Homo sapiens: one gene and its partners. The protein of the gene in region 1 purifies or fractionates together with the protein of each later gene. This does not show direct contact. Each region holds a gene or a part of one and is shown on either strand. Other genes may lie near its edges. The genes, in order: EIF3B, EIF3H, EIF4G1 and EIF4E.

What was found.
Region 2: the proteins of EIF3B (region 1) and EIF3H purify together in Homo sapiens (affinity purification with mass spectrometry; 12 studies listed by BioGRID and IntAct, with this or other methods). This does not show direct contact.
Region 3: the proteins of EIF3B (region 1) and EIF4G1 purify together in Homo sapiens (affinity purification with western blotting; 7 studies listed by BioGRID and IntAct, with this or other methods). This does not show direct contact.
Region 4: the proteins of EIF3B (region 1) and EIF4E purify together in Homo sapiens (affinity purification with western blotting; 5 studies listed by BioGRID and IntAct, with this or other methods). This does not show direct contact.

The regions. Positions count from the first base shown.
Region 1 is NC_000007.14:2,364,804-2,371,973, reverse strand, and holds part of EIF3B (eukaryotic translation initiation factor 3 subunit B), read right to left. Parts: intron 5,658-7,170; coding exon 5,526-5,657; intron 5,450-5,525; coding exon 5,383-5,449; intron 5,041-5,382; coding exon of another isoform or gene 5,017-5,040; exon of another isoform or gene 5,002-5,016; intron 4,976-5,001; coding exon 4,929-4,975; intron 2,503-4,928; coding exon 2,292-2,502; intron 198-2,291; coding exon 125-197; intron 1-124.
Region 2 is NC_000008.11:116,745,821-116,752,990, reverse strand, and holds part of EIF3H (eukaryotic translation initiation factor 3 subunit H), read left to right. Parts: intron 1-5,864; exon of another isoform or gene 5,865-7,170.
Region 3 is NC_000003.12:184,310,119-184,317,742, reverse strand, and holds the start of EIF4G1 (eukaryotic translation initiation factor 4 gamma 1), read right to left. Parts: upstream 3,138-7,624; 5' UTR 3,069-3,137; intron 2,580-3,068; exon of another isoform or gene 2,255-2,579; 5' UTR 2,198-2,254; intron 1,981-2,197; 5' UTR 1,947-1,980; coding exon 1,887-1,946; intron 1,672-1,886; exon of another isoform or gene 1,612-1,671; coding exon 1,525-1,611; intron 1,031-1,524; coding exon of another isoform or gene 1,010-1,030; intron 423-1,009; coding exon 246-422; intron 27-245; coding exon 1-26.
Region 4 is NC_000004.12:98,925,966-98,933,726, reverse strand, and holds the start of EIF4E (eukaryotic translation initiation factor 4E), read left to right. Parts: upstream 1-4,593; 5' UTR 4,594-4,614; coding exon 4,615-4,632; exon of another isoform or gene 4,633-4,754; coding exon of another isoform or gene 4,755-4,832; intron 4,833-7,761. UniProt on the Homo sapiens protein: Acts in the cytoplasm to initiate and regulate protein synthesis and is required in the nucleus for export of a subset of mRNAs from the nucleus to the cytoplasm which promotes processes such as RNA capping, processing and splicing.

The DNA of each region.
Region 1 (7,170 bases):
TCATGGTGAGGGCTCACAGTCCTGACTCAGCTGCTCAGACAACCCCTCGCATGGAAGTGTTAAAGCCAAGAGTAAAACAGCACGTAGGCCCCATTCGCCTCAAAGTGACTAAAATACAACTTGCCTTTCATCTCGACCACATCCACAGGTACCTGTTTCTCCCTCATTCGGAAAATTTCAAAATTTGTGACAACACCCTGTTTAAAAAAAAGGGGGAAGGGGTGACATTCTGGACAGTGAAAATATGAGAAAAGGTTTAAATCAAAGATCAACGTCACAATGAAAGATTCAGTGTGCATGCCTGGTTCACACACGAGCATGTGCAGTGATGAAAGCCACAGCCCTCAGGATGGAAGACGGTTCTAAGGCTGGAGAACTGCCGGCACCACGTCTACTGGAAGCCACTGGACATGCATGAAGTAACTCTGACCCAGATCCCACCTCCAGGAGCCGCCCTGCCCGCCACACTTGGGCACAAGCAGTCCCAGGGTCCACACTGCAGGCTGCAGGCCAGGGTCCTGAGGGCCCTAAAGGCACACCAATGGGGCTGGGTAAACCACTTCAGACAGTGGGGTGTCCTGTAGCCATAACCTTCAAGAAGTCCTGCCCTACTCGAGGAGTCTGAGGGAAAACTGCCCTGATGTCCATCAACAGAGGAAGGAGGCCAAGAAACGGGGTCCACCCAACAAGAGATTACTGCTGACACTCAGCACCGTGGACCAGCTGTGGGAACGCTGTGCTCCGTGAAGGAGGTCAAACACAGAAGGTGGCATAGTATCCGATTCCAGCTGTGTGTTCAGAATAGGGAAATCATAGACATTCGTGATGCCAGGAGCTGGGCGGAGAGGCTGCTAACAGGTATGTTGTTTCTTTGTAGGGTGACAAAAACATTTATTTATTTATTTATTTTTGAGACGGAGTCTCACTCTGTTGCCCAGGCTGGAGTGCAGTGGTGCAATCTCGGCTCACTGCAAGCTCCGCCTCCCGGGTTCACGCCATTCTCCTGCCTCAGCCTCCCGAGTAGCTGGGACTACAGGCACCCGCCACCACGCCTGGCTAATTTTTTGCATTTTTAGTAGAGACGGGGTTTCTACTAAACCCTCGATCTCCTGACCTTGTGATGCCCCGCCTCAGCCTCCCAAAGTGCTGGGATTACAGGCGTGAGCCACCGTGCCCGGCCTTTTTCCTATCTTTTAAAAATTATCTGTGGAGATGGGGTCTCACTGTGTTTCCCAGGCTGGTCTGAAACTCCTAGCCTCAAGCTATCCTCCCTCCCACCCCGGGGGAGCCACCGCACCCAGCCGATGAAAACGTTCTGAAATGAGTGGTGGTGGCTGCATAACTCTGAACACACGAAAAACCACTGAACCAGTTCACCACTCTAAAGGGGTGTTTTCAGGCATGTGAACTACATGTCAATTAAAGCTTTCTTAACATAAAAGAAAGAAGAATACTTCTATTAGAGGGAAAACTCAGGAATTTCTTTTTTTTTGTGAGACGCAGTCTGGCTCTGTCGCCAGGCTGGGGTGCAGTGGCGCAATCTCGCTCTGTTCACTGCAAGCTCTGCCTCCTGGGTTCAAGCGATTCTCCTGCCTCAGCCTCCCGAGTAGCTGGGACTACAGGAGCCTCCCACCACGCCCAGCTAATTATTGTACTTTTAGTAGAGATGGGGTTTCACACCACGTTGGCCAGAATGGTCTCAATCTCTTGACCTCATGATCCGCCCACCTCGGCCTCCCAAAGTGCTGGGATTACAGGCATGGGCCACTACACCCAGCCAACTCAGGCAATTTTTTGATAAAATAAATATTAAATGATCAACCACCAAAAATAAAAAAATAAAAAAATAAATCTTGAGTATACTACTCCTTGTGCTTAGAAAGAAAATAATATTCTCAGCCAGGCACGGTGGCTCACGCCTGTAATCCCAGCCCTTTGGGTGGCCAAGGCGGGCAGATCACCTAAGGTCAGGAGTTCAAGACCAGCCTGGCCAACATGGTGAAACCCTGTCTCTAATAAAAATACAAAAATTAGCCAAGCGTGGTGGTGGACGCCTATAGTCCCAGCTACTTGGGAAGCTGAGGCAGAAGAATCATTTGAAACCAGGAGGCAGAGACTGCAGTGAGCCGAAATCGCACTCCTGCACTACAGCCTGGTGACAGAGTGAGACTCCATCTCAAAAAAAAAAAAAAAAAAAAAAAAAAAAAATCCATTAACACCCTCCAAACAATACGGTGGCCACTTCAGAGCTCAGGATAAGGAATCGTCAGTTCCTGTGGGAATCTACATACCTGGGTGCCTTTCGGAGTCCTATCTACTTTCACACACAAGTAGTCTCCGTTCTTCTGCCAATGGAGCTTGCAGTCCACCACATTGAACAGGTTCCTCACTCGGATCTCTTGCCTGGTAGGGAGCTGCATCAGGGTTACCCTGGCTGGAATATCTTTGTCTTCAGGCACCCAGAAGGCGATTATGTTACCACCAGGAGACCAAGAAAAGTCTCTGCAGAACAGGAAAATAAAATGTTAAAGCAAAGACCAAGTGATGACGAAACTGAAAAGCAGAAGAGAATAGAACAACTCATTTGCTATATAGAAGCTCAATGCTGTCACAGCTGACGCTGAGCGCTCCCTCTGCACAGCCACTGCTCTGGGCATGCCGCGCAGCTTCATAGGTCCTCGCCAGGACCCTGTGGCACTACTGTGCTCACTGTGACAAGGAGTGAATGCAGACAGAATATTAGCAACCCCACCATCACGCACAGACTCATATGGACTCCAGCCTGGGCTCCGTCAGCCCACTCTTAAGACACCGCACACTGCTGCTTTGAGGCAAATAAGTTTTAGGCTGACGGATCTGGCTACATGTCATCTAAAGATTAATTAAGGTGCAAATGGGGAAAATGGCAAATCAAGTGTAAGGAATGAGCAAGAACAAGGGCAGCTCCCTCCACTTTATCAACTACTCTACAGAAGAGCTGCTGTAACGAACGGCTCCTGAGCTCACCTACATGAAAAACATCTTTATACACGCTATGTGCTGTTTTGCATTTTTTGAGAACCAACGTCCTGGTCTTTTCATTTTATAAGCCATAATTTTGCCCAAGAATGTAAAAACGAAAGAAGAAACGTCAATGTCCTTGGATTGTTGGAAGTTCACTGCCGTGATACTGACCAGTCCCAAGTTTTGCGATAAATAAAAACGTGCCCATTCTTTGCTGGTGAAAATGAGCCGAAGGCTCCCCAAACCCTGCCTCGGATGGAAGAGTACCAGGAAAACCTTTCACCTAAGCAGAGTCCCCTCTTTTCCTTAAAAGGCTGGAAACCCCACCCTCCTCAGTTTCTAGATCAAAGACGAGGTAGATGGAAGGAAGCCGACTCAAGGCTCTGGCCTTGAAAATTCATTTCTAGGCACGGGAAGGGGTCACTGAAGTGGTGCCTCAAGGGTGGCGGGCCCAATGCTGAGCAGCCTTGCTGCCCACTGACTCAAGCCTCCATCCTTGTGTCCAGAACAAACTCACCTTAGGCCGGGCGCGGTGGCTCACACCTGTAATCCCTGCACTTTGAGAGGCTGAGGCGGGCAGGCGGATCACTTGAGGTCAGGAGTTCGAGACCAGCCTGGCCAACATGGTGAAACCCCGACTCTTCTAAAATATACAAAAAATTAGCTGGGCGTAGTGGTTGCGCGCCTGTAATTCCAGCTACTCAGGAGACTGAAGCACCAGAATCGTTTGAACCTGGGAGGTGAAGGCTGCAGTCAGCCGAGATCACGCCACTGTACTCCAGCCTGGGCAACAGAGTAAGACTCTGTCTCAAAAAAGATTTAAAAATGGCTGGGTGTGGTGGCTCACGCCAGTAATCCCAGCACTTTGGGAGGCTGAGGTGGGCAGATCACTTGAGGTCAGGAGTTCTGAGACCAGCATGGCCAACACAGTGAAACCCCATCTCTACTAAAAATACAAAAATTAGCTAGGCATGGTGGCAGGCACCTGCAGTCCCAGCTACTTGGGAGTCTAAGGCAAGGAGAATCACTTGAACCCAGGAGGTGGAAATTGCAGTGAGCCAAGATCTCGCCACTCTACACCAGCCTGCAAGACAGAGTAAGACTCTGCCTCAAAAAAAAAAAAAAAAAAAAAAAAAAAAAAAAAATTTTAAAAAAAGAACAAACTCACCGTTTTCTCTCCAACTGGTTAAGAACTGAGTGACAGGCTGGGCATGGTGGCTCACGCCTGTAATCTCAGCACTTTGGGAGGCTGAGGCGGGCAGATCACAAGGTCAGGAGTTTGAGACCAGCCCAGCCAACATGGTGAAACCCCATCCCTACTAAAAATACAAAAATTAGCCGGGCTTGGTGGCACATGCCTGTAGTCCCAGCTACTCGGGAGGTTGAGGCAGAAGAATCACTTGAACCCAGGAGGTGGAGGTTGCAGCGAGCCAAGATCGTATCACTGCACTCCAGCCTGACGGAGCGAGACTCTGTCTCTAACAACAACAACAAAAAGCTGAGTGCTAAAGGAGAGACAGCAAATAAAGGAAACCAACTGCAATGGACCACGTCTGTGTCCCCCAGATTCACAGGGTGAAATTCTAACCCCCTGGGGTGACGGCATGGGGTGGGGCCTTTTGGGGGGTGGGAGGTCCTGAGGGGGAAGCCCTTGGGAATGAGATGAGAGACTTTACAGAACAGGCCACGGAGGCCTTCCTCCAGGGAAGGCTGGACCGAGGGGCTGTCCACTAGGAGGGAGGTGGGCCGTCACCAGACAGTCTGCAGGCACCCTGACCTCAAGCTCCCAAGCTCCAGAACTGGGAGAAAGAAATCTCAGCTGTCATAAGCCACCCAGCCTATGGTATTGTGTTTTTTTTTTTTTTTTTGGTATTGTGTTAAGCAGCCTGAACACACTAAGACACCAAACTGATAAGAATACTCACTTTATCCCAGAGATCTTCAAACTCTTCTTGTCCAAAAGACCCATAGACTGCCCAAAAAAAAGGAAGGCTGCAGTTGAGTCAAATCATGTCAGTGTCTCAGAAACACACCTAACTTTTTACAAAAGGAAACAAGAGTCTGATGTGAGTTTGCCTAGGGGGCAGTGCACACAGAGCGTGACAGTGAACCCATCCACCCACCCGCCACCCAGAACTGCAGTTCTGAAGCCCACTGCATTAACTCCCATCCAGGACTTCCCACGGCTGCGCCAGGTGGGCAGGAGTGACTGAAGAGCTCTGCCCAGAGCAGGGGCAGTTAAAAAGGCACAGGAGACAGGCCTTTCCTATGCATCTGTGAAACCTCCTCCTCCTCTTCTAGCACAAATAAGGAAAGGCACCACACCCCGGTTACAAGCAAGGACCGGACGGGGCGTTTGCCATCACTGAGGCCACTTACAGGAGTTTCATAGATGCTAAGCGTATCCAGGGTCATTCTGGCAAAGAATTTGCCATCATGGCTCCACCTAAGAAAAACAAAAGTGCCAGGGTATTCCCATGAAAAGACAAAGGCTACAGAGCTCGTTACAATGGTCCACTTACTTAAAAATAGGCCAATGGGCTGAGCTCTCACAGTGAAAACCCCTCTTCTTGTGCCCCGTAAGGATGTCCCAGATGATTATGGCCTGAGGGTCATCCTGCGTGTCCATCAGGGGGCTAAAGGTCACCAGGTACCTAGAAGAGAAGGGCAACACTGTACACTATCCTCCTCTCACGAGAGGATCACAGTCTGTCTGTGCGGCCAGAACACGCCGTCAGAACTCGCGGAACCAGCTCTCTCCCCAAACCCCACACTGCCCGGCCCCAAGAGACCCAAGCGGAAGCGGGAAGCAGCGGCGCTTGTTCATTCTGGTGTCAATACGCTGCAGGCGCTCCGGTTTCTCCAAGATCAGCACAGAAGATCTCACCGATCCCACACAAGGCTGCTAAGTGATCCAGAGGGTGGCGCAGTGTGGAACTCTATCTTTACCCATGTTTAATAAAGACTAACAAGTTAAAAAAATACGGCTGGGCGCAGTGGCTCACACCTGTAATCCCAGCACTTTGGGAGGCCGAGGTGGGTGGATCACCCAAGGTCCGGAGTTTAAGACAAGCTTGGCCAACCATGGCCGACATGGTGAGACCCTGTCTCTACTAAAAATACAAAAATTAGCCGGGCGTGGTGGCAGGCACTTGTAATCCCAGCTACTCAGGAGGCTGAGGCAGGAGAATAGCTTGAACCCGGGAGGTGGAGGTTGCAGTGAACTGGTATCGTGCCACTACATTCCAGTCTGGGCGACGCATGAAACTCAGTTTCAAAAAAAAAAAAAACAAAACAAACAAACAAACAAACAAACAAAAAAACAAGTCCCATCCAGTTCGAAAGCCAGCACAGGTCTGATAGAAACTTCAGAGCCTGGGGGCTCCTCCCAGCCATGATTTACCTGACTGCTGGCTTGTCTGGAGCTACTGCACCTGCTTACTCAGTTCACACAAAGTGTGTAACAGACGGTCCCTTACAACACCAGAGGGGAAGGCAGACACAACCCATGAGGGCGAAAACAGAGCGGCCCCAGCTCGCCTCGCACTGCCTTCCACAACTGCCCCTTTCCCTAGAGTGGCCCCCGTTCGCCTCACACTGCCTTCCACAACTGTCCCTTTCCCTAGAGTGGCCCCAGCTCGCCTCACACTGCCTCCCACAACCGCCCCTTTCCCTAGCAGGCCTCCGACAGCCGGATTAGCTAGATCAAAAATCACGGCTCGGCCAGGTGCGGTGGCTCACGCCTGTAATCCCAGCACTCTGGGAGGTCAAGGCAGGAGATCACTTGAGCCCAGGGGTTCAAGACTACCTTGTACAACAAAGTGAGACCCCCATCTCTACAAAAAATAAAATTAGCCATATGTCATGGCGTGTGCCTGCGGTCCCCGCTACTCAGGAAGGCTGAGGTGGGAGAACCGCTTGACCTGGGAGGCTGGGGTTGCAATGAGCCTGCAATGGTGCCACTGGGTGGCGCCAAGCCTGGGTGATAGAGGAAGGACAATTTATTATCTGTAAAATACGTGACCTTAGACTAGATCCTGAACTGAAGGAAAGTAAGTATTATACAGAACATTATTAGGTCAAGTAACAAAATCAGAATATGGCAATACATTGAAGTATTAAATGAATGGTAAATCCCTGAAGTCAGTACCCACACTATGGTCACAC
Region 2 (7,170 bases), on another chromosome or scaffold:
GATTATTGCAGATGGAGTAACCAAGAATCATCCATCTTGAATACTATCTCCACATGGATGATAGGTATACCCACGTTTGCCCAGATACAATTTAAAAAAAACTCCTTCCTTAAACTCTTCTCTTCTCTCTCTCTTTTTTCTTTTCTTTTCTCTCTCTCTTTCCTTCCTTCCTTCCTTCCTTCCTTCCTTCCTTCCCTCCCTCCCTCCCTCCCTCCCTCCCTCCCTCCCTCCCTCCCTCTTTCTTTCTTTCTTTCTCTTCTTTCTTTCTTTCTTTCTTTCTTTCTTTCTTTCTTTCTTTCTTTCTTTCTTTCTTTCTTTCTTTCTTCATTTCTGTCTTGATGAACAGTGTTACTCTTAGGAAAGCAATATTACATACTAGCCAAGAGAATCTTGACGACAGACTTGGATTCAGATCCTTATTCCAGCAGTAAGCATGACCTTGGGGAAGTTATTAAATTTTCTAGGCCTCAGGTGTATCCTTTGTAAAATGGGGATGATGATAAAGTAGTAACTCATAAGGGTTGTGAGAATGAAATTCCGAGGTATTTAAAGTGTTTAGTATAGTACCTGTGTCATCGTAAACACTCAGATTACTGTGTCTTTACCACTCTCATCCTTATTAATGTTTCTCAAATCATTTCGAATGCTAACTTTGCTAATGTAGATTGGAATTGTAGAAAGAGCACTTCAGTGCTCCTGGTAATCAGGAGACATGCATTCCAGTCTGCATCCACCAGTAACTAACAACACTTCTATGATTGTTTTACTCCAAAGGTACATTTTCTCATCCACAAAATGATTGCCACTATCCCTATCAATTTTCATGGTTTATGGTTTCTTTCTTTTGCTTTCATACCTGAATCCTGAGGGTTCTTATTGGTGTGTGACCCCAGTCAATCACTATCCTTCCTTTTAGGCCACTTACTCCTTTCCTTTTATGTTTCTTCTCCATCTGTGCATATTGGAGTGCCTCATGGTTTAGGTTTTGGCTTTTCTTTTAGTCTCTGCTTGACATAGGTAGTGTAACGAAGTTGATAAAAGTACATGCTCTGGAGCCAGACTGCTTGGATTTGAATCCCAGCTCTGAAATTTGCTGCATGACATTGGGCAAGTCTTTGTGCCTCATTTTCCTCATCTGAATTGTTTTGAGACTTTAAATGGATTGAATATATGTCAATAACTAGAACAATGTCTGGGACAGAATAAGTCACCATTTAAGCTTTGCTGCTGCTTTATTTGCAGTAATTATAGTAGTATTCTTTAAGGTATTCTTATCTGTGCTCACGGCTTTAAATATTTATATTCTAATAAGTCCTAGATTTATATTTCTGCCAGTAATGGCTCTTGAATGCCTCTTTTGAATACCCATTGCCTGTTTGACGTCACTATTTGGATATCTCATAGGCATCTCATATTTAACATGTACAAAATAGAATTATAGACTTGTTCTTCTCCTTACTTTCCATCACAGCACCCTATATTTCTAGAATTTTCCACAGCCTGTAACTATCTTGTTTGTTTTCTTCTTTGTTTTCCTCATCAGAATGTATGCTACTGAGGGCAGGGACTATGCTTTTTCACCTGTTTTATCTCCAGTGCTGAACCTGTTAATTCACAAAGTAGGATAAATGAATGAGTATGTATTCCATTTTATTATTTATACTAATTTATGTTCTAATATCTTATGCAGGTTATTTTAATATTGTTTTCCCCTGCCTTCTTCAGTCTACCATTCATACTTTTATTTTATTTTATTTTATTTTATTTTATTTTTTTTTTGAGACGGAGTCTCGCTCTGTCGCCCAGGCTGGAGTGCAGTGGCGCAATCTCGGCTCACTGCAAGCTCCGCCTCCCGGGTTCACGCCATTCTCCTGCCTCAGCCTCCCAAGTAGCTGGGACTACAGGCGCCTGCCACTACGCCCGGCTAATTTTTTGTATTTTTAGTAGAGACGGGGTTTCACCGTTTTAGCCGGGATGGTCTCGATCTCCTGACCTCGTGATCCGCCCGCCTCGGCCTCCCAAAGTGCTGGGATTACAGGCGTGAGCCACCGTGCCCGGCCTCATACTTTTATTAAAACGTTTATTTAACGTGAACATTCAGATTTTAACTTCTTTCCTTAGATGTTTTCAGTGACTTTCCATTGAATTGAAGGACCAAAATGTTGTCCTTGTTTCTTGCATTTATGTTCAGGTTTATTTCCTTTCTTTCCAAGCTTTGTAGGAACTGTACATTCCAGCCCCTCAGACTACTTAGTTTTTTCTTTAATAAGTCATGCTAAAGGCCAGGTGTGGTGGCTCACGCCTGTAATCCCAGCACTTTGGGAGGCCAAGGCAGGCAGATCACACGAGGTCAGGAGATCAAGACCGTCCTGGCTAACATGGTGAAACCCTGTCTCTACTAAAAATACAAAAAATTAGTCGGGCGTGGTGGCGGGTGCCTGTAGTCCCAGCTACTCAGGAGGCTGAGGCAGGGGAATGGCATGAACCGGGGAGGCGGAGCTTGCAGTGAGCCGAGATTGCACCACTGCACTCCAGATTGGGCGACAGAGCGAGACTCCGTCTCAGAAAAAAAAAAAAAAAAAAAAAAGTCATGCTAAAGACAGACCTAGAGTCACATCCTTATTCAAAGCAGTAAGCATGACCTTGCTTTTGTTCATGAAGTTCTTTCTCTTTGAAATTGTTCTCTTTCATCATCACATATTGAATAAAAAATGTGACTTAATCGACTTACTCTGTTTTTTTAAAAATTCTCCATATAGTTTAACTTGAATCTGTATACTCCAGATGTATTCTGTTCTTCATTCATTTAACAAATATTTATTGATTGCCGACCACATGCCAGGTCTAGCCCTGCTACATGCTGGGGTATATTGCAGTAACCTATATAAGATATTATATAGGTGAGCAAGGTAGAACCCAGTCCCGACTCTCATGACCATTCTCAGTCATATATAGATGTAGATGAACCCAGAGATTAATCTCATCCTATGTTTAGCCTGATGTTTTAACACATTTGTTCCTTCCTGGCACATTGATAGTGGCCAAGACCAATTTTTCTTGTATTTTTGAACCCTTCCTTTCCTACCTTTAGACCTGTTTCATCACTTCCTCTGTATCTGTAATGTAGCAGTCCCTCCACAGGGCTTGTTTTCCAAAGAAAAGTAAGCCCTCCACAGGGCTTGTTTTCCAAAGAAAAGTATCATTTGGAGGAGCAAAGTTATAAGCCTACCTAAGCATGTCGTAAAGCTGTTCAAAAATAACTCAGAGCTAGTCTTGTGGATGGAAATGTAGTGCCTGAGTCACATTCTGCTTAAAGTTGTAACAAATACAGATGAGTTAAAAGAAAAAAAACAAAAATAAAGAAAGAATGGGTCTTCATTCTGTCAGGTGGTCTCATTGTTCCTAGACAAGATCAAGCTAATTCTTCCCGTTAAACTTTTCATGTTGAACCCACTTTGTTCCCTAGAACATTTGAATTTTACCTTTCTTATGTTCATTAGACCTTGCTATTCAAAGTATGATCCATGTCCAGTAAGATGAGCAATGTTGGCTACACTTGAGTTTGTTAGAAATGCAGACATACGTATCACAGAATCTCAGGCCCCTCTCCTGACCTACACAATCAGGTGATTTATAGCATTTTACTGTTTGAGAAGAAGCTTGCTCTCTTCCTTTCTCTGAGCTTTTTAATGACAGCTTGTATCATTCACCTTGGTATGTGATCCATACTGTTAGTGATTTACTGTTAATATATTTTCCCCTTCTCATTGAGATGATAACCCTTTTGAAGGCTGAAGTATAAAACATTTGTCTCCTCCATAATTCAGTGCTTGAAACCCATTGCTATTGAAATTTCTTACCTTTTAAATTTTGTTTTCCCCTTTAAGTTATCTTATTAGATACCTTATTCCCCTGGTTTTGTAAGTAAGGTAGAGTATGTTATTAATAAATAGAAAAGTATGAGTTACATATACAGTCAGCTCTCTATATCTTTGGATTCTGAATCCAGCAATCTCACATCCATGGATTCAACCAACCATGGATCGAAAATACTAGGAAAAAAACAACTAAAAATACAAATAAAAACCAATACAGTATAATAATTATTTACATAGCATTTACATTGTATTAAATGTTATATGCAATCTAGGGATGATATATAGGAAGATGTGCCTAGGTTATATGCAATAACTAATGCTACACCATTTTATATAAAGGACTTGAGCATCTGCGAATTTTGGTATCCAGTTTGGTCCTTGTTTCTGTCTGAAACTCTTTTTACTTGTTGCTTATTTCTTCACACTAGAATATCAGCTTCCTGAAAGTGGCACCCATGTCAGGTTTGTTCACTACAGTATTTCTAAGGGTCTAGAACAGTACCTCGTGTATAGAAGGCACTCAGATGTTGTGAATGAATGAATATACTCCTGTTGTGTGGAAATTTTCTTGAAAATCAATCATGAAGAAACTGGGTTAGTAAATGCTTGAGTGTTGGTGAGAAAAGAGCACACAGTTGAGGATAAGCTAGTTAGCTTTCTGGGCTTGTTCATATTTCTCCATCTTTTTATTTGTTGATTTCTTATCTGTTTGAAAAATCACTAATATTAATTGGACACCTATTATAAGACCCTGTACAGGGATGTTTGGTTAAATTTTGTGTTGTTTGGTTAAATTTTTTGTTAAATTTTAGATGTTGTGATCCTCACAACAGCTTTGGGGATAAATGTTATCACTACCTTACCTACCTGATGGTTATTCAAATCTAATGGAAAAATTTTGGTGGAAGTACTTTGTTTTTTATTTTGTTTTGTTTTGTTTTTGTTTTTTTTTTTGTTTTTGAGACAGAGTTTTGCTCTTGTTGCCCAGGCTGGAGTGCAATGGCATGATCTTGGCCCACTGCAACCTCTGCCTCCCAGGTTCAAGTGGATCTTGGCTCACTGCAACCTCCGCCTCCCAGGTTCAAGCGATTCTCGTGTCTCAGCCTCCCAAGTAGCTGGGATTACAGGCATGCGCCACCACGCCTGGCTAATTTTTTGTATTTATAGTAGAGACGGGGTTTCACCATGTTGGTCAGGATGGTCTCGAACTCCTGGTCTCAGGTGACCCACCCACCTTGGCCTCCCAAAATGTTGGGATTACAGGTGTGAGCCACCGCAGCAGGCTGGTGGGAATGCTTTGTGAGTTGAATCAAATACTTCGAATTTGTAATGCCAGGCTATCACATGTGTCACTGTAGATTTTTTGTGATACTCTTATGAATTTAAAGAGACTGGACAACAGCTTGTTTAAATTCCATTGAAATGGAAGCTCTTCTCTGAGATCCTGGTCTGAAGTATAATACAGTTTGGCCTTTTAATGTTTTAACAACAAAAAAAATTATATGACCCTTGGCCTCTTCTTCCAGTTTTCTGACTTGAGTGGTGCATACGTAAGTTGTTTGACATGTGAGATAATTTTTTCAGTCAGATAATTTGAAATCCTTTCAAGCACCAAAACTTGCACATTTTAGCTATTTTAATTATATGTGTTTCTGAAGTGTAATACATAATTTTCTGCTGCTTTAGTCAGAGAACATGGAACACAATCTAACCATGTTTTGATGGCATAGTATTATCATTAAGAACATGTTATTGGGCCGTGCTCCCGCCTGTAATCCCAGCACTTTGGCAGGCTGAGGTGGGCGGATCACCTGAGGTCAGGAGTTCGAGACCAACCTGGCCAACATGGCGAAACCCCATCTCTACTAAAAATACAAAAGAAATTAGCCGGGCATGATGGCGGATGCCTGTAATCCCAGTTACTCAGGAGGCTGAGGCAGGAGAACTGCTTGAACCTGGGAGGCAGAGGTTGCAGTGAGCCGAGATCACACCACTGCACTCCAACCTGGACGACAGGCAGAGACTCTGTCTCAAAAAAAACAAAAAAACAAAAAAACATGTTATTGAACCAGACAGGACAGTAGATCTGTCAAGAAATCCCTTCGGGTAGTCTGTTATTTCTATAATAAATGTCCCCTGTTGTTGAACTTTAGGTGCCTTGAGTGGTTTATGTTTCTAGTTGGTGCCTTTTTTGGTTGTTAAATTTATCTGTTTCTTATCCCCTTGCTTTTCAGGTTTTTTTTTGCTGTGAGTGAAAAACCAGTTATGCAGGATTATCTCTAACCTGAGTATTTGTGAGTGAGGATTAAATTCGTTATGCAGTCTGACATTTTGATTGCTTAGTTATATTTTTTGCTTAGGCAAGTAAGATGTTATTGCTTACAAATAGTAACTTTTTATAATAGAAAAATCATTTAGCGTACATTATTATATCTTGGTAGCTCCAGGAACTGGGCGGACTAGTATTATCTGGATTATACATGTGATTCTCCCACTCCAAGAAGCTGGGTGGCTTTTCAAAGACATAAAGTGAATATATCCTGGAGCTTGAATTCAGATCACATCTAGCCATCCTTGACTCATTTTCTTTTACATTTTATAGCAGCTTCATATACTTGAAGACCCCAGTAGTTATTCTGTGTTATGTGACAGGTACTGTTTTAAGTATTGTGTATTTATTATGGCATTGAAGCAATACAACAACTCTTTGATATAGGAACCATCATTATCCCTATTTTATCAATGGGGAGACGTGGGTACAAATAGTTTATGTGATTTGATTAATGTACAGATGGAGGAAATAGAAGTTAAGGTGTGTACAGAATAGTTAATCTAGTGCTTCTTGTTTGAGCATTGGGAAATATGTTTTTCAGAACTCAGGTGTCTTACAGACTTCTAACTTTAAAATGTATGAGAAAACATACATTAGAATCTTTACGTTTGATAATCAGTCATATTGTAGAAGATTTGTAGCTATAAGAAGTCAATTTAGTAAATATTCTGAAGTTTGGAAAAATGCAACCTTAAACTGCTGAGTTCACATATTAAGATACTGGGGATCAATAGTAAAGAAAATCAGCATATTAAGGAGCATTGGGAAGAGTACTGGTACGTGTCCCTAAGTAAGTTAGTTTACCTGCATTGGGTGGTAATTCTAAGTCCATCTGACTTTTCCTTTTTTTTTTTTCCTTTGAGACAGAGTCTTGCTCTGTCGACCGGGCTGGGGTGCAGTGGCCCGATCTTGGCTCACTGTGATCTCCACCTCCTAGGTTCAAGCGATTCTCGTGCCCCT
Region 3 (7,624 bases), on another chromosome or scaffold:
GTCGGGACAACGTATGTGGAACGCCCCTGGTGGGGAAGGGGGAGAGGGAGAGAAGGAGTTGAGGGAGCTATGAGTTCCATATCAGACTCCAAAAAGAACATAGGTCAAGACAAGACAAGCCAACTCTGGGCAATGACCAGAAGGAAGTCCCACCTCTGGAAAAGCAATGGAACTGGAGGGTCAGGGTGAGTTAAGTGAGAGGTATAGGGGTCTGTGGCTTCTAGGCTCCAAGCCCCCAGCCTCACCTGTCCAGGGATGTAGTAGGCCCCCTGGGAGGCTGGGTAGGAGATCTGGGAAGGGATCATCATTACTTGGGATCCAGCAGGGTAGACATGGGCAGCTGGGCCAGGGCGGGCAGGGGCTGCACTCTGCACTCGGGAGGCTGCACTGCTCGGGGGCTGGGCCCGGCTAGGGTAGAAGTGCTGTCAGGAGGGAGGAAAGCAGTTGGCATTGTAAAGAGAAGGAAGTGGACAAAAAATTGCCACTCCACAATGTCTCTATAGCCTGGAAAGAAGTACTGTGGGCTTCAGAACATGGCGACCAATCCTTCCAAGACCACTTGACCAAATGGCTAAGCGGCTTCTTGTACACACACATGCCCTCCAAACCTCCAAATTCAGATGTACACTTTGCATCCTGCAGAGATTTACTCTCTCACTGCCATGCATACACACGTCACCTCTACCAAACTACCCCTCTGCAGAGGCTTCCTAACACCGAGATGCATCATGCCTAAGTAAGGCCCTTTCGGGCAACATATCCCCAGCATGCACTGCTCCACCAGCATGTAATGAGGAGCTAACCATAACATGCAACAGCATCCCAGTCCCCAGATGCGCGTTCTTCAAGATGTAGCCCCTAACATGCATCACTCGGCCTCCAACTGAGAACCTGGACACCAAACAAGTCACTACCCTGAAGATCCCCATTCCCTGTGTCTAGCCCCTGACTAGGGTGGAGGGTAAGGATGAGACCAGAAGACTGTCCAGGGTTGGGAAAGGGATATTACCTGCAGAGACCTGAATCCTCCCTGAGAGCACATGGGGATAGGAAAGAAGAGAATTACCCCCAAGGTGATGGCGGGGGGAGGGAATGAAGGCAATAAGACAGGACAAGAATCCTCCCACTTAGTAAGGAAGAAGCTGGGGAACAGAGAAAGGCAAGGACCAGCTGGAGTGTTTACCTCACCACAGTCCAAAGAGAAAGCAGAGAGAGCAATAGAGCAATAGCAGCCTCCGGTAAAAGGAGCAAATAGGAAAGCAAGAGCTGGCAGCAGGGCCCAAAGCACTGCCCCCAATTCTCAGAGGCACTAGGATCCCAGTAATGCCACCCTCATTGACAACATACTATCCAAGGGACCAGCCACCGTGAGTAATCAACAGGGCAAGGCGCAGAGCCGCATGAAAGAACACAGAGGATTAAGGCCAGGTATGGGGCCTCCAGTTTCCATCCTAGACCTAAACTGGCCAAAGCTTTCCACTGCTCCCACCCAGGTCCCCTACTCCCCTCCCCACAGCCCCTCACCTGGCGGGGCTGAGAAGGCGTGTTCATTTGTGTCGCTTGTGGCGTACTGAACACCACCGGCGCTGTCTGCCCCGGGGGAAACGCTGGCTGAAGAGGGGAGACCAGAGTTCAGCAAGAGGGGAAGCCCAGGTGGGGCAGAAACCCAAGCTGGTGAAATAAGGGGAGCAGATCTGCGGCAAGAGCCTTAACAATCCACATACCCCCTCCCCGTGACAGCCCCCGGGGACAGCCCAGGGGCCCTGTCTCAATTTGGCAGCAGGCGGCTGCACTTTGCCCTGACACAGATGGGGGTAGGAAGATCCAGAGGCTGGAGACTGCCTGGTCTCCCCCACCCCCACCCCTGCTAATTCCTCCCTAATTACCTGTGGGAGTCCGGGGGATGGGGCGGGTGGGGGGCCTGTGGACTGTGGAGCTTTGTTCATTTCATTTGGTGCCACATCAGGGTCCCCCCAGCACCTGTTGGGAAAGAGTGGCGCTCAGGAAGAGGAAGGGACCCAAGCTTAAGGCAAATGGGGCGGTGAAAGGGTTGATGCAAGGGCTGGGTCCCATACGGAGTCCCAGAGATGCCAAGAGGGTGAAGCAGAAAAGATACAGCCTGTCCCCACCAACATGCTGTCAAACCCGCATCACTTCCAACCAACCCCTGACCTACTGAAACAGACCCCTCACTCACCCCCTCGATTAAGAACAAGTCCACGGTGCGGCCTACAGGTTCTGGGCATCCGAGGGCCTGGGGTTGGGAGGTGAGGGTATCAACCTGGCTCCGCGGGGCCCCAGACCAACCAGACCGGAAATTCCAGGTCTCGCTGGCACCAGGCTCCCGGATCACGAACGGAGCTAGCTGCTTCGGCCGTGGCGTCCCCACCCCCCACCCGGGGACACCGGGTTCGGGCCTGGCCCAGGGGCACACAGGATACGCCTGCCGCCGGGGAACCCGCACTGGGCCAGAAGCTAGGCCTGCCGCCGCCCAGGAGTGTAGGCCAGGAAGGGCGGGAGTCAGGCCCTAAAAGGCCAGGCGGGCGGCGGCCGTCGAGGAGCCGGTTTCAGGCAAGTGAGGGTCGGCCCGGAGGGCGGGCGGGGCCGGGGGCTCCTCCCTGCCCGCCGCCACCGCCTCCCTCCCCTGCGCCCTCCCTGCGCAGCGCGGGCCAGTGCCAAAGAACAACGTGTCACTTCCCGGCGGCCTGGCCGCGAAGGGGGGAGGGGGCGGCGGGCCGGGAGCCGTGGTGCCTGCGCCCGTGGGCTGCCGGGCCTCCTCGGGTCAGGCCGAGGTGGCATTTCGCGGCGACGAACCCGGCGCCCTACCAGCCCGCGGGGCCCGCATAGTCCGGCCCTGCGCTCCCCACCCCCACCCAGCAGCCAGGCCCGGCCGGGCCAGGCACACGTGGGCCGGGGATCGGGACCCTGGCGGGCCGGGGCCCTGGGTCGGGCCGCGGGGCCAGGGCGCCGGGGCGGCGGCGCAGGGTGGCCGGTCCCGGCCCGGATGGCGGCGGATGCGGGGGGAGGGGGTGGGGGGGCCGGGTCGGGCCCGGACATGGCGGCTTTACCTTCAGTCTCCTTCAGTCCGCGCGGCCGAGCCCCACGCAGCCGCACAGACGTAGTCCACAACCATTTCCGGCTCCCCGCACAGATCCCGCTCGGCGGCCACCGCTTCTCCGCAGGCGCAGCCGGCGCCCCCACGTGACCGGCGCAGGGGGCGGAGCCGCGCCGGGCGATCTGCGCCGCCGAGCACATGGGATTTGCCCCCGCCCCGTCACGTGACAGCCACAGCCCGCCCCCGTGTCCCCTCCCGAACTTTGAAACTCCCAGACCGATTCCCCTCTGTGTTTCTCTCTGTTCCGCGATTCTTTAGTTCATTCATATTTTAAGCAACCATTTATTGAGTGCATGCTAAGTACAAGGCGAAGTGCTGGTTGAGGGCTGAGAAACTGAAATCAAAGTCTCGGCAAAAAAAAAAAAAAAATAAGCGGGGCGCGGTGGCTCACACCTTAATCCCAGTACTTTGGGAGGCCGAGGTGGGCGGATCACGAGGTCAAGAGATCGAGACCATCCTGGCCAACATGGTGAAACCCCGTCTTTACTAAAAATACAAAAATTAGCCGGGCGTGGTGGCGCACCCGTAGTCCCAGCTACTTGGGAGGCTGAGGCAGGAGAATTGTTTGAGCCCGGGAGGCAGAGGTTGCAGTGAGCGGAGATTGTGCCACTGCACTCTAGCCTAGCCTGGCGACAGGGCGAGACTCCATCTCAAAAAAAAAAAAGAAAGAAATTAAAGACTCCGTCCTGCCTAAGTAAATCGTGATACAATACGAATTATGCAGGCTTTGAAAATAATTTAGATTAGGTCATTGAAAGGCCAATAACAAAGGAAATTAAAAGGATAGAAACATTCTAATTAGGCAAGTAGTATGAGATTTGTAGTTTAAAAAGATCATGGGCCGGGCGCAGTGGCTCACGCCTGTAATCCCAGCACTTTGGGAGGCCGAGGCGGGCGGATCACGGGGTCAGGAGATCTAGACCATCCTGGCCAACATGGTGAAACCCCGTCTCTACTAAAATACAAAAAATTAGCTGGGCCTGGTGGCGCACGCCTGTAGTCCTAGCTACTCGGTAGGCAGAGGCAGAGAATTGCTTGAACCCGGGAGGCGGAGGTTGCAGTGAGCCGAAATTACGCCACTGCACTCTAGCCTGGCGACAGGGTGAGACTCCATCTCAAAAAAAAAAAAAAAGAAAGAAAAAAAGAAATTAAAGACTCAGTCCTGCCTAAGTAAATCGTGATACAACACGAATTATGCAGGCTTTGAAAAGAATTTAGATTAGGTCCTTGAAAGGCCTATAACAAAGGAAATTAAAAGGATAGAAACATTCTAACTAGGCAAGTAGTATGAGATTTGTCGTTTAAAAAGTTAGAAACATTCTAACTAGGCAAGTAGTATGAGATTTGTCGTTTAAAAGGATCATGGGCCGGGCGCGGTGGTTCACGCCTGTAATCCCAGCACTTTGGAAGGCCGAGGCGGGCGGATCACGGGGTCAGGGCGGATCACGGGGTCACCATCCTGGCCAACATGGTGAAACCCCCATCTCTACTAAAATACAAAAAATTAGACGGGTCTGGTGGCGTGCGCCTGTAGTCCCAGCCACTCAGGAGGCAGAGGCAGAAAACTGCTTGAACCCGGGAGGCAGAGCTTGCAGTGAGCCAAGATTGCGCCACTGCACTCTAGCCTGGATGACAGTGAGACTCTGTCTCAAAAAATAAAAATAAAAATAAAAAATAAAGGCAGGCACGGTGGCTCACGCCTGTAATTCCAGCACTTTGGGAGGCCAAGGCAGGCAGATCACCTGAAGTCAGGAGTTCGAGAGCACCCTGGCCAACATGGTGAAACCTCATCTCTACTATAAATAGAAAAATCAGCCAGATGTGGTGGCAAGCACCTGTAGTCCCAGCTAGTGGAGAGGCTAAGGCAGGAGAATCGCTTGAACCTGGGAGTTGGAGGCTGCAGTGACCTGAGATCACAACTGCATTCCAGCCTGGGCAACAGAGTGAGACTCTGTTTCAAATAAATAAATAAATAAATGAAATAAAATATAAAAAGAGCAGACACTCCCACGGAGGGGCAAAAGCGTAAGGATGGAAGAATAAGGACAGAAGAGAAGTAATCTTAAAACTGACAGCCGGTCGGGGGCGGTGGCTCACGCCTGTAATCCCAGTATTTTGGGAGGCTGAGGCAGGCGGATCACCTGAGATCGGGAGTTTGAGACCAGCCTGACCAACATAGAGAAACCCCGTCTCTACTAAAAATATACAAAAATTAGCCAGGCATGGTTGCGCATGCCTATAATCGCAGCTACTCAGGAGGCTGAGGCAGGAGAATTGCTTGAACCCGGGAGGTGGAGCTTGCGGTGAGCTGAGATCCTGCCATTGCACTCCAGCCTGGGCAACATGAGCGAAACTCCGTCTCAAAAAAAAAAAGAAAAAGCTGACAGAGGCCAGAAGGGACCATCATCTACAGCCAAATCCACAGGTCAGATTGCTTGAGTTTTCATCCAAACTCTGATACTTATTACCTGGCCAGAATTTGTTAACTTTCCCTACTCAATCAAGTCCCCCAAATATATTGTTGCTTACGTAATAGATAGTGCCTAACCTGAAAATCTGGGATTCATCCTATATTCCTTCTCCATCCACACACTACATCTAATCAGACACCAGGTCTTACTGGTATTTGGATCAAAATCAAGTCCTATTGATCTTATCTTTTAAAAAATAACTATTCTACCCTTCCCTATGTCCCCATTTCAACTGCCTTAGTTCAAGCATTCATTTTCCTTGCCTGCTCTCCTGTCCTCCAGGGTTAGCTTTCTCACCCAGATAGCTGATCATGTCACTTTTCTGCTCTCATTCAGTGGGCCCCATTGAAAGATACTGTCAAATTCTTAGCACAACAAAGCTCTTGTAAACCTAGTCTGAGCCTGAATTTCCAGCTGTATCTCCTACCACCCTTTTCCCTGGCCCCTATACATTTAGCCAAACCAAATTATCTGTAAGTTTCTGAAAACAGCTTTTCCTCCTTCTTGCCTTTGCTACTCCCTTAGCTATATTCTGCCCTCTTTTCCTCTGTACAAACTTATCTTCCTCTAAGGATATAAGCTTCCTCAAAGTCCCCCGATTGCCCCAGGCACTTAGGCCCCATCTCAGTGATACCAGGGTACCTTGTTCACACCCTGGTAAGTATCGATCACAGTTGTTTTCATCATTTCATTAAACTTTTTGAGCATAGGGGTTTTTTTCTGTATTTGCATCCCCATAAATTAGACGAATGTCTGATGCAGAGTAAGGCTCCACTGCTATTCACTGATGAATGAAGAACTAAAGGTGAAAGGTTAAAAGCCACTATGAAACTGTCTTATTCTAAAGCACAATCACCTAAATCACAATTTGGGAGAGAATCATTCTTTTTAGTTTACAAATCACTTTTTATTCTAACATCACCACCACTGGAAATCAGGTAAGGCAACTACTATATCCACATTATATAATAACAGAGGCTCATCACATCACACATGCTAACTTGAAGATTATGGCAGGAACCATAAAGGGGCTCAACAGGGATTCCTTAATCCTGTTTCAACCTTTTTATACAGGCTGCCAAGATGACTCAATCCAAAATTGCTGATGTCTCATGCCTGTAATCCCAGCTACCTGAGAGGCTGATGTGGGAGAATCACTTAAGCCTAGAAGTTCAAGGCTGCAGTGAGCCATGATCATGCCACTGCACTCCAGCCTGGGCCACAAAGTGAGACTTTGTCTCTAAAAAAATTTAGTAATAAAATAACTGGGCCAGGTGTGGTGGCTTACACCTGTAATCCCAGCACTTTGGGAGGCCGAGGCAGGTGGATCACAAGGTCAGATCGAGACCATCCTGGCCAACATGGTGAAACCCCGTCTCTACTAAAAATACAAAAATTAGCAGAGCATGGTGGCGCATGCCTGTAGTCCCAGCTACTCAGGAGGCTGAGGCAGACAGTCTCTTGAACCCCAGACGCAGAGTGAGCCGAGATCACGCCACTGCACTCCAGCCTGGGCAACAGAGCACGACTCTGTCTCAAAATAAATAAATAAATAAATAGCCAGGCATACTGGCTCATGCCTGTGATCCCAGCACTTTGGGAGCTGAGGTGGAAGGATCCCTTGAGGCCAAGAGATTGAGACCAGCGTGGGCAACACAGCAAAACCCCCACCTCCACAAAAATAAAAGTAGGCCAGCTGTGGTGGGTCATGCCTATAGTCCTAGTTACTACTTGGGAGGCTGAGTCAGGAGGATCACTTGAGTCCAGGAGTTTGAGGCTACAGTGAGCTATGACTGTGCCACTGCACTCCAGACTGAGTGATAAGAGTGAGACCATTTCAAAAAAAAAAAAAAAAAGCCAGAAGTGGTGGTACACACCTGTAGCCCTACCTTACCTGCTTGGGAGGCTGAGGGTCAAGCCTTCTTGAATCCACTTTCTACAAGGACATCCTAGAAGTAGATGTTAACATGATCAAATTCCTCATAGCAGCCTCCCAAGAGGGACAGATGGTTGCGGGAGGTAAAGATGTCCTTTTCAT
Region 4 (7,761 bases), on another chromosome or scaffold:
TATAATTGTAAAAGCATAAAATGTTGGCACACGGATATATTAGAATAGCAGAAGAGGTTTCCCTTAAAAAATTTTTTTCTTTTTCTTTTTCTTGATTTTCTTTTAAAAATCAAGGTGCCTTTTTAGCCAGTAGGTAGTGCCTCAGTCTCATAAAAATCACCAAGGAGAGAGTAAACAAAAAACTAACTAGAATAATAAAATAATTTTTTAAATTCCAATTCTGCTCCAATCTTTTAATATTCAAAATTCCTTGGTCATGTTTGCGTACATCCCATGTTTTTAAGCAATGTCCTGAGTAGGTAATGGGAATTGGTGTCTCTCAAACTGTAAAATTAAAATAAGGGTTCACAGTGGCTCAGGCCTGTAATCCCAGCACTTTGGCAGGCCGAGGCGGGCAGATCACGAAGTCAGGAGTTCGAGACCAGGCTGGCCATCTCTACTAAAAATACAAAAGTTAGCCAGGTGTGGTGGCACGCACCTGTAGTCCCAGCTATTTGGGAGGCTGAGGCAGGAGGATCGCTTGAACCCAGGAAGCAGAGGTTGCAGTGAGCCAAGATCTGGGCAACAGAGTGAGACTGCATCTCGGGAAAAAAAAATTACATTTGAGTTTTCCCCAAATATTTGATAGCAATCTATCTACAAATCATCAATGAGCTAATATTTTAGTAGTAGGGTCAATCAACAACTAATTAAATAATGTTTAACAGCAAGTTTAGAGTTAGGGTTATGAAGTGGCCTAAAGAAAACCAAAGCAGAGTGAGGGGATAAAGAGTAATGGAAACAGTAATTTAGATAGGGTGGTCAAGGAAGCCTTCCTTCAGGAGATCACATTGGAACAGAGGCCTGGATGAAATGAGGGAAGGAAGTATATGATTCGCTCATTCATTATGTGAATGTGTGCTGGTTATGGTGCTTGTTAACTGCATCCTCTTGGTTCTTAGTCACACCTCTTTATATGGGTACTGAACTATTTATATTTCTATGACTTAGTACGCCAACCAGATTTTACAGTCGGGGAAGGAAGTGCCTGTACTTCCTGTGTCCTTTAAATATCCTCCACTGGTTACATAGTTCCCATTACTAACTTAGTACTTGTTGGATGGTTTCTGGTCAGTTCTGTAAATGAACTTGGAATTACAAGTCCTTTGAAGAGCAATAAAGAATAATAGAGAATAAATAGAGAAATAAAACATAAAATTTCAGCTCTATATATTTAGGATTGGCAAAAACAAAACAAAACAACCACATACACACATACATAAAAACCTAATCGTTAAATCTTTGAAATGGTAGAATCTCAAATAGGCAAAGACACATTAATGGTCATAAAACACACACAACAAAGTATATACAAAAATGGAGATTTTCCTGAAACTCTGTGCTTGAAAATTATAAAGAAAAATTGTTGAAAACTATGTAAAAAATGGAAAGAAACTAAACCATAAAGAATAGAGCATCCATAAGTATTGTAAAAGTATGAGTCTTGGTTGACAAGAGGGAGTTTTTTTTTTTTTTTTTTTTTTGAGACTGAGGGAGTGCAGTGGCGCGATGTCCGCTCACTGCAAGCTCCACCTCCTGGGTTCACTCCTTTCTCCTGCCTCAGCCTGCCGCGTAGCTGGGACTACAGGCGCCTGCCACCATGCCCAGCTAATTTTTGTATTTTTAGTAGAGACGGGGTTTCACCGTGTTAGCCAGGATGGTCTCGATCTCCTGACCTCGTGATCCGCCCGTCTTGGCCTCCCAAAGTGCTGGGATTACAGGCATGAGCCACCGTGCCCGGCCCGAGTTTTTTGATTAACAGAAAATTTAATAAAAATGGAAACTGTTGTTTAAAAAAAGTTTTAAGAACATCACTGGCTTTCAGTCCTATAGGTATTTTCTTGCCAATCTCATTGATTTTTTGCTGTTATATAACAGCTTCATGAAAATAGGACATCTGGCCAGGAATGGTGGCTCATGCCTGCAATCTCAGCACTTTGGGAGGCCCAGGTAGGGGGACCGCTTGAGCCCAGGAGTTTGAGACCAGCCTGGGGAACATAGCTAGACGCTCCTGTCTCTGCAAAATATAAAAAAATTAGCTAGGCATGGTGGCCCATGCCTGTAGTCCTAGCTACTTGGGAAGCTAAGGTGGGAGGACCCCTTGAACCCAGAAGGTCAAGGCTGCAGTGAGCCATAATCATGCCACTGCACTCCAGCCTGGGTAACAGAGCAACACCCTGAAAAGACAAAAAGAAAGGAAGGAAGGAAGGAAGGAAGGAAGGAAGGAAGGAAGAGAGAGAGAGAGAGAGAATGGGAGGGGAGGGGAGGGAGGGGAGGGGAGGACAGGGGAGGGGAGGGGAAGAGAAGGGAAGGGAAGGGAGGGGAAGGGTAGGGAAGGGAGAGGAAGGGTGGGGAAGGGTGGGGAAGGGGAAAATAGGACATCTATGCTGTCTTTTTCTCTTCAAAGAAGGTAACCTGACACCACTTCTAACCAGCAGAAAATAACAACGCGGTCAACAGAATTATTTTGGATAGTCTAAGTAACAGTAGATAGTCTCTGTAAGTAGAAATCCACTTATCCGTTTATTATCATTTTTTTTTTTTTTTTGGAAATGGAGTCTCACTGTGTCGCCCAGACTGGAGTGCAGTGGCGGGATCTTGGCTCACTGCAACCTCCACCTCCCAGGTTCAAGTGATTCTCCTGCCTCAGCCTCCTGAGTAGCTGAGACTACAGGCAGGTGCCACTATGCCTGGCTAATTTTTGTATTTTTAGTAGAGACAGGGTTTCACCATGTTGGTCAGGCTGGTCTCGAACTCCTGACCTCAGGTGATCCGCCCGCCTTGGCCTCCCAAAGGGCTGTGATTACAGGCGTGGGCCACTGCGCCTGGCCTGTTAATTCTATCTACTTTAAAACCTAGTAGAGCTAAGCCCACTAGACAAAAGCTTTCATTAATCACTTCTGATATTCAGGTAAACCAAAACATATGAACAGGCAATGGCTTTGAGTTCTCATACAGCCTCAATTATGTGTTAGTCAACTCAAGCATCCATTATGTACTCAATAATAGGTATGACACAGCTCTGGACCTCATTAACACTATAAGCAGACAGGCACAGGCAGCCTGCATACACTCCTTTTCCTGGTGTCAACATTATTTAAAAGCATGGGAAATAGTAATGAGACAGTGTCTTCTTCATTAGAACCTTAGGAGTCTACTAGATTTCTTCATCTCTATTTGTTGTTATTAGTAGCCAAACTGTGCAAAAAACACGGTCTTGAGAAATGACAGCACAGTATCTTAGAGGGAAAGGAAATGTAGGATGCCAGTGTGGGGACAAATTTCTGATTGCCAGTGATTGTTGTGAGCATAACAATAATTTCATGAACATTAAAGCCTCTATTGAGGGCAGCTGCAGTTGTAAAGGAAAAAAAATGGTCCTGAACATTTAAAACTACACTGGTGTACATCATAATCAAACAAAGTAAACAGAAAAAAATTTAAACTTTGCTAAAAAAAAAAAGCAGAAGCACTTGATCTTTAGGAAGGCACGCAGTTGCTTATTATGAATCATTTCTAGAGTCCGATGCATTTTCAAAGCCGGTTACAGTCATTACGAAGCACACCCTTGTGAGGTAAGTGTATCATCACCTTTGGTTCATAAATAAAAAAGCTGAGACGCCGAGCGATTAAGTCACTCGCCTAAGGAGAATGAGTCAACGTCAAGAGTCATAGTTGACCCGGCCTAAAGACTCCAGACCATCAGTCCAGGGCTTAGTCAGCGGGGCCCGGAGTGGCTTCCCTGGCTGGCATCTGGACTTAGGCTATTTCCGTGCACGTAAAAGCGGAATATTGGAACGGTTGCACAGAACTTCCAAATAATTTTTACCGCCACGCAAGATTTAGCCCTGAGGTCTTAATCTCAGGATTTGGGACAGTAAAAGCTGTCGTCCCTCCCCCTCGTCCAGCCGGTGGCAAGCGGGTACTGCGGGCGGTTCCGTCCGTCCCCTTTCGCAGAAATGGCAACGAATGACCACCAGCATTAGCTGAGCCAGGGGACGTGGGAGGGTTGATTGCCTAAACGACTCTGCATCGCCGCCTCTTTTTGAAACTAAGAGAAAATGGTGGGAGATCAAAAGAAAACTAAATAAACACACAGGCAACTTGTCCTGGGACCTCAACTAAGCAAATGAAGCCTTATTGTGTGTGCTGAGCCTGCAGTTCCCAACCTTCCGGGGAAGATGGGAGGACAGGGCGACAAAGGGCACAGTAGGCTTGCCTGGCAGTAAGTGTGACCGCAGCTATCCAGGCGGAAGAGCAGAGGACTGAAACCACCCTCCAGCAAGCGAGTGTCCGCCGCGTTGAGAACCGCGCACCCTACCCATCGGCCACGTGACCAGTCCTTTTTAAAAAAAATTTCTTTACCTTAAAAAAAAAAAAAAAAAAAAGGTGGGGGAGAGACTCCACTTCCCAGAAGCCTCTCGTTACTCACGCAGCCGCAGTCTTGCGCAGGTGCCGCCAGGGCCAAACGGACATATCCGTCACGTGGCCAGAAGCTGGCCAATCCGGTTTGAATCTCATTTTTTTCCTCTTACCCCCCCTTCTGGAGCGGTTGTGCGATCAGATCGATCTAAGATGGCGACTGTCGAACCGGTGAGTATTGCCTTTGGCCCCCACCCCCACGGGTCCCCGCGCTCCGTCTTCCTTCTGACTGGGGGACTCCGCGGGACGGCGTTCCCGGCGCGCACTGTACCCCTTGCCGCCCCTTCCCCTTCATGTTGGACCTGACCTCCCGCGGACAAGTGGGGACGTCCCGGAGGATGGCCGAGGCGGCGTGTAGCGCACACTTTCTGGTGGGGGCCCGAGAACTGGGGGAGCGGTGTGGGGGAGGGGCGGCGTGGCGCCTCCTGCGGAACCGCGAGGTGTCTACAGGGTGGAGGGTAGCTGGGGTTCTGGGCTGGGTATGCGAGGATGGTGTCTTCATGATAGGAAGGCGCAGGGCCGGCTCCCAGCGAGTACTGGGATCCGCAGGCAGGGTGGGCGGCGAGCCGGCCTGGAGTGAGATGGAGGAGGGAGCCCTGGAGCAGCCTTTCCCTCCCTGCAGAACCCCAGCTCCGGGGCTCGGGTGCGGGGCGCGCGCACGTCTTCCTTAGACCGGTGGACTGGGGAGCTGGTGGGCGAGTGTTGCCGGAGGGTGGGTTAGGCGGGAGTGGTGCCGCGGCACGCGCGGAGGAGCTTCGACCTCGCTTAGGGGAGTTGAGAGGGGCGAGCGTCTGTTAATCCAGCGCGCCGGAGAGTTGCCGGTGTTTGCGCCAGGGGAAGCGAGAAAGGTCTGGGGTGGGAAGGAACACTCGTGTGTCACGGTGAAGCTCTCCAAGTAGAATGAGGGATGGTGGTGGTGAGAAGGGGTATCACATTGTCCTCGCCCCTCCATGCTTGGGACTGGGCTGTCATGGAGGAGGGAAGGGGGAGGAGCGAGGCCTACAGATCGCTGTAGCCGGTCGGCTTGCCGGCCGGACCTGCTGCATTTCACACGCGCCCGTCTTCCATTCATTCATCCTTTCCGCGTAGTGCGCACGCCTCAGAGAATGCGAATGGGTCTCAATCCCTCTGTTCTTCCGAGTCTTTATCTCCTGGAAGATTTCTGAGACGCAGTTTATTGGAAATAGAAACTTTTAAATTTACTTTTCCATTTGACTTTTTTTTTCTCTTTATCTATGCTACAGACTTTCATTTCAATTTAGGCACCATTTTAAACTTAACTGAAGCAAGCTGGTCCCAGGGTAGGTTTGTAGTTAATCTTTAAGCAGAGGGTATATTTTTCATAATTTGGGTTTGCCAGGACTGGCTCACTGAAACTTCTGGGCCCTGTTGCCTTTTTAGAAACGACACAGCTAAGTGAAGATATCTTGTGTGCATAATGGGGTTTATTAGCAATCAGAAAACCTTTCACACTCTGGAACCAGCTCTAGACCTTGGTTGCCAGATACTTTTGTGTATCTTTTCATGGTAGCTTGTGGTTTTGCTAATGGTTTACCAGTTTGCTTTGACTTTTAAAGACTTTTTTTTTTTTTTTTTTTTTTTTTTTTTTTTGAGATGGAGTCTTGCTTTGTCGCCCAGGCTGGAGTGCAGTGGCGTGATCTCGGCTCACTGCAACCTCCGCCTCCGGGTTCAAGCGATTCTCCTGCTTCAGCCTCTTGAGTAGCTGGGATTACAGGTGCGCACAACCGTGCCTGGCTAATTTTTGTATTTTTAGTAGAGACGGGGTTCCACCATGTTGGCCAGGCTGGTCTGAAACTCCTGACCTCAAGTGATCCTCCCGCCTCAGCCTCCCAAAGTGCTGGGATTACAGGCGTGAGCCACAGCACCCGGCACTTTTAAAGACTTTTATAAAACTATTTCAAAAACTCTTATAGACTACACAAAGGCTTATTTTTCATTGCGTTGGTGTAAACTATCCTTACCTTGTCAAAATTCAAGGCAGCTTCTCTGCTTGCTTACTTGTTTTTTTATTGGCACCAGTTTTCATTTATGTTCCTGGGAATTAAATTGACTGAAAAACTCATAAGTTGTTGCTACAGTTAACTGACTTTAGGACATTAATATTACATAACACTAATGAAGAATAAGTATGTAAAATATACATTTTAAACCCCTTGACAGGTTCTGATGTCCACTTTTGTCTAGATCTGTTCCTACCCCACTACACTAGTGTCAGTAAAAAGCATTACATCTGGTAATAGGGGCAAGGCTACGAGACTGTAAACTATAAAACAATAAGGAGTTCTGTGAGGTTTCTGTCACATTTAGGTCCCTTGAGTTTTGCAGAGTTTATGCAGTTTTGTTTCAGCAGCACAGAGCGGAACTGCAAAGTGATGAAGGACTATATTTTGAGTTAGTAAATATTAATAGCTCCTGATATATCCAGGGTGTTGTACCAAGTGTTCTTTAGGATACAAAGTTATACAAGATGTGAGTCTTGTTGAATGTAAACCCTTAAGGAACTTAATTCCTAGGGATGTGGTTAGTGATACAGTATTTGTTCTGGTACAGACTTTGGGAGATTTGGATGTTATGTTTAAATTTGGGGAGTAGGGGAACCTAAAAACAAAGTGTGTGAAGCTGGAAACTAAAGTATTTTGAGAATATATGTAAAATAGTATCGAAGTGTTTAGTTTTAGTGAGAAATGAATTTTTTTTTTTTCGATACTGACTTTCACTCTTGTTGCCCAGGCTGGAGTGCAATGGCGCGATCTTGGCTCACCGCAACCTCCGCCTCCTGGGTTCAATCGATTCTCCTGCCTCAGCCTTCCGAGTAGCTGGGATTACAGGCATGTGCCACCACGCCCGGCTAATTTTGTACTTTTAGTAGAGATGGGGTTTCTCCATGTTGGTCAGGCTGGTCTTCAACTCCCGACCTCAGGTGATCCGCCCGTCTTGGCCTCCCAAAGTGGTGGGATTACAGGCATGAGCCACCGCGCCTGGCCTGAAAATTTTTAGTACTTTTAATATACCCTTGTGCACAGGCTAGTTATGTGGAATTATTTTTGACAGTTTTAAATAGTTGGATTTTGTGTGTAGGGGTGCAGGATCTTGCTCTGTTGCTGGGGCTGGAGTGCAGTGGCGCGATCATAGCTCACTGCAGCCTCAAACTCCTGGGCTCAAGAGATGCTTCCATCTCAGCCTCTGGTGTAGCAAGCACTACAGGAGCAGGCCACCACGCCCGGATAATTTTTAAACTTTTTGTAGAGATGGAATCTCGCGATGGTTACCCAGGCTGGT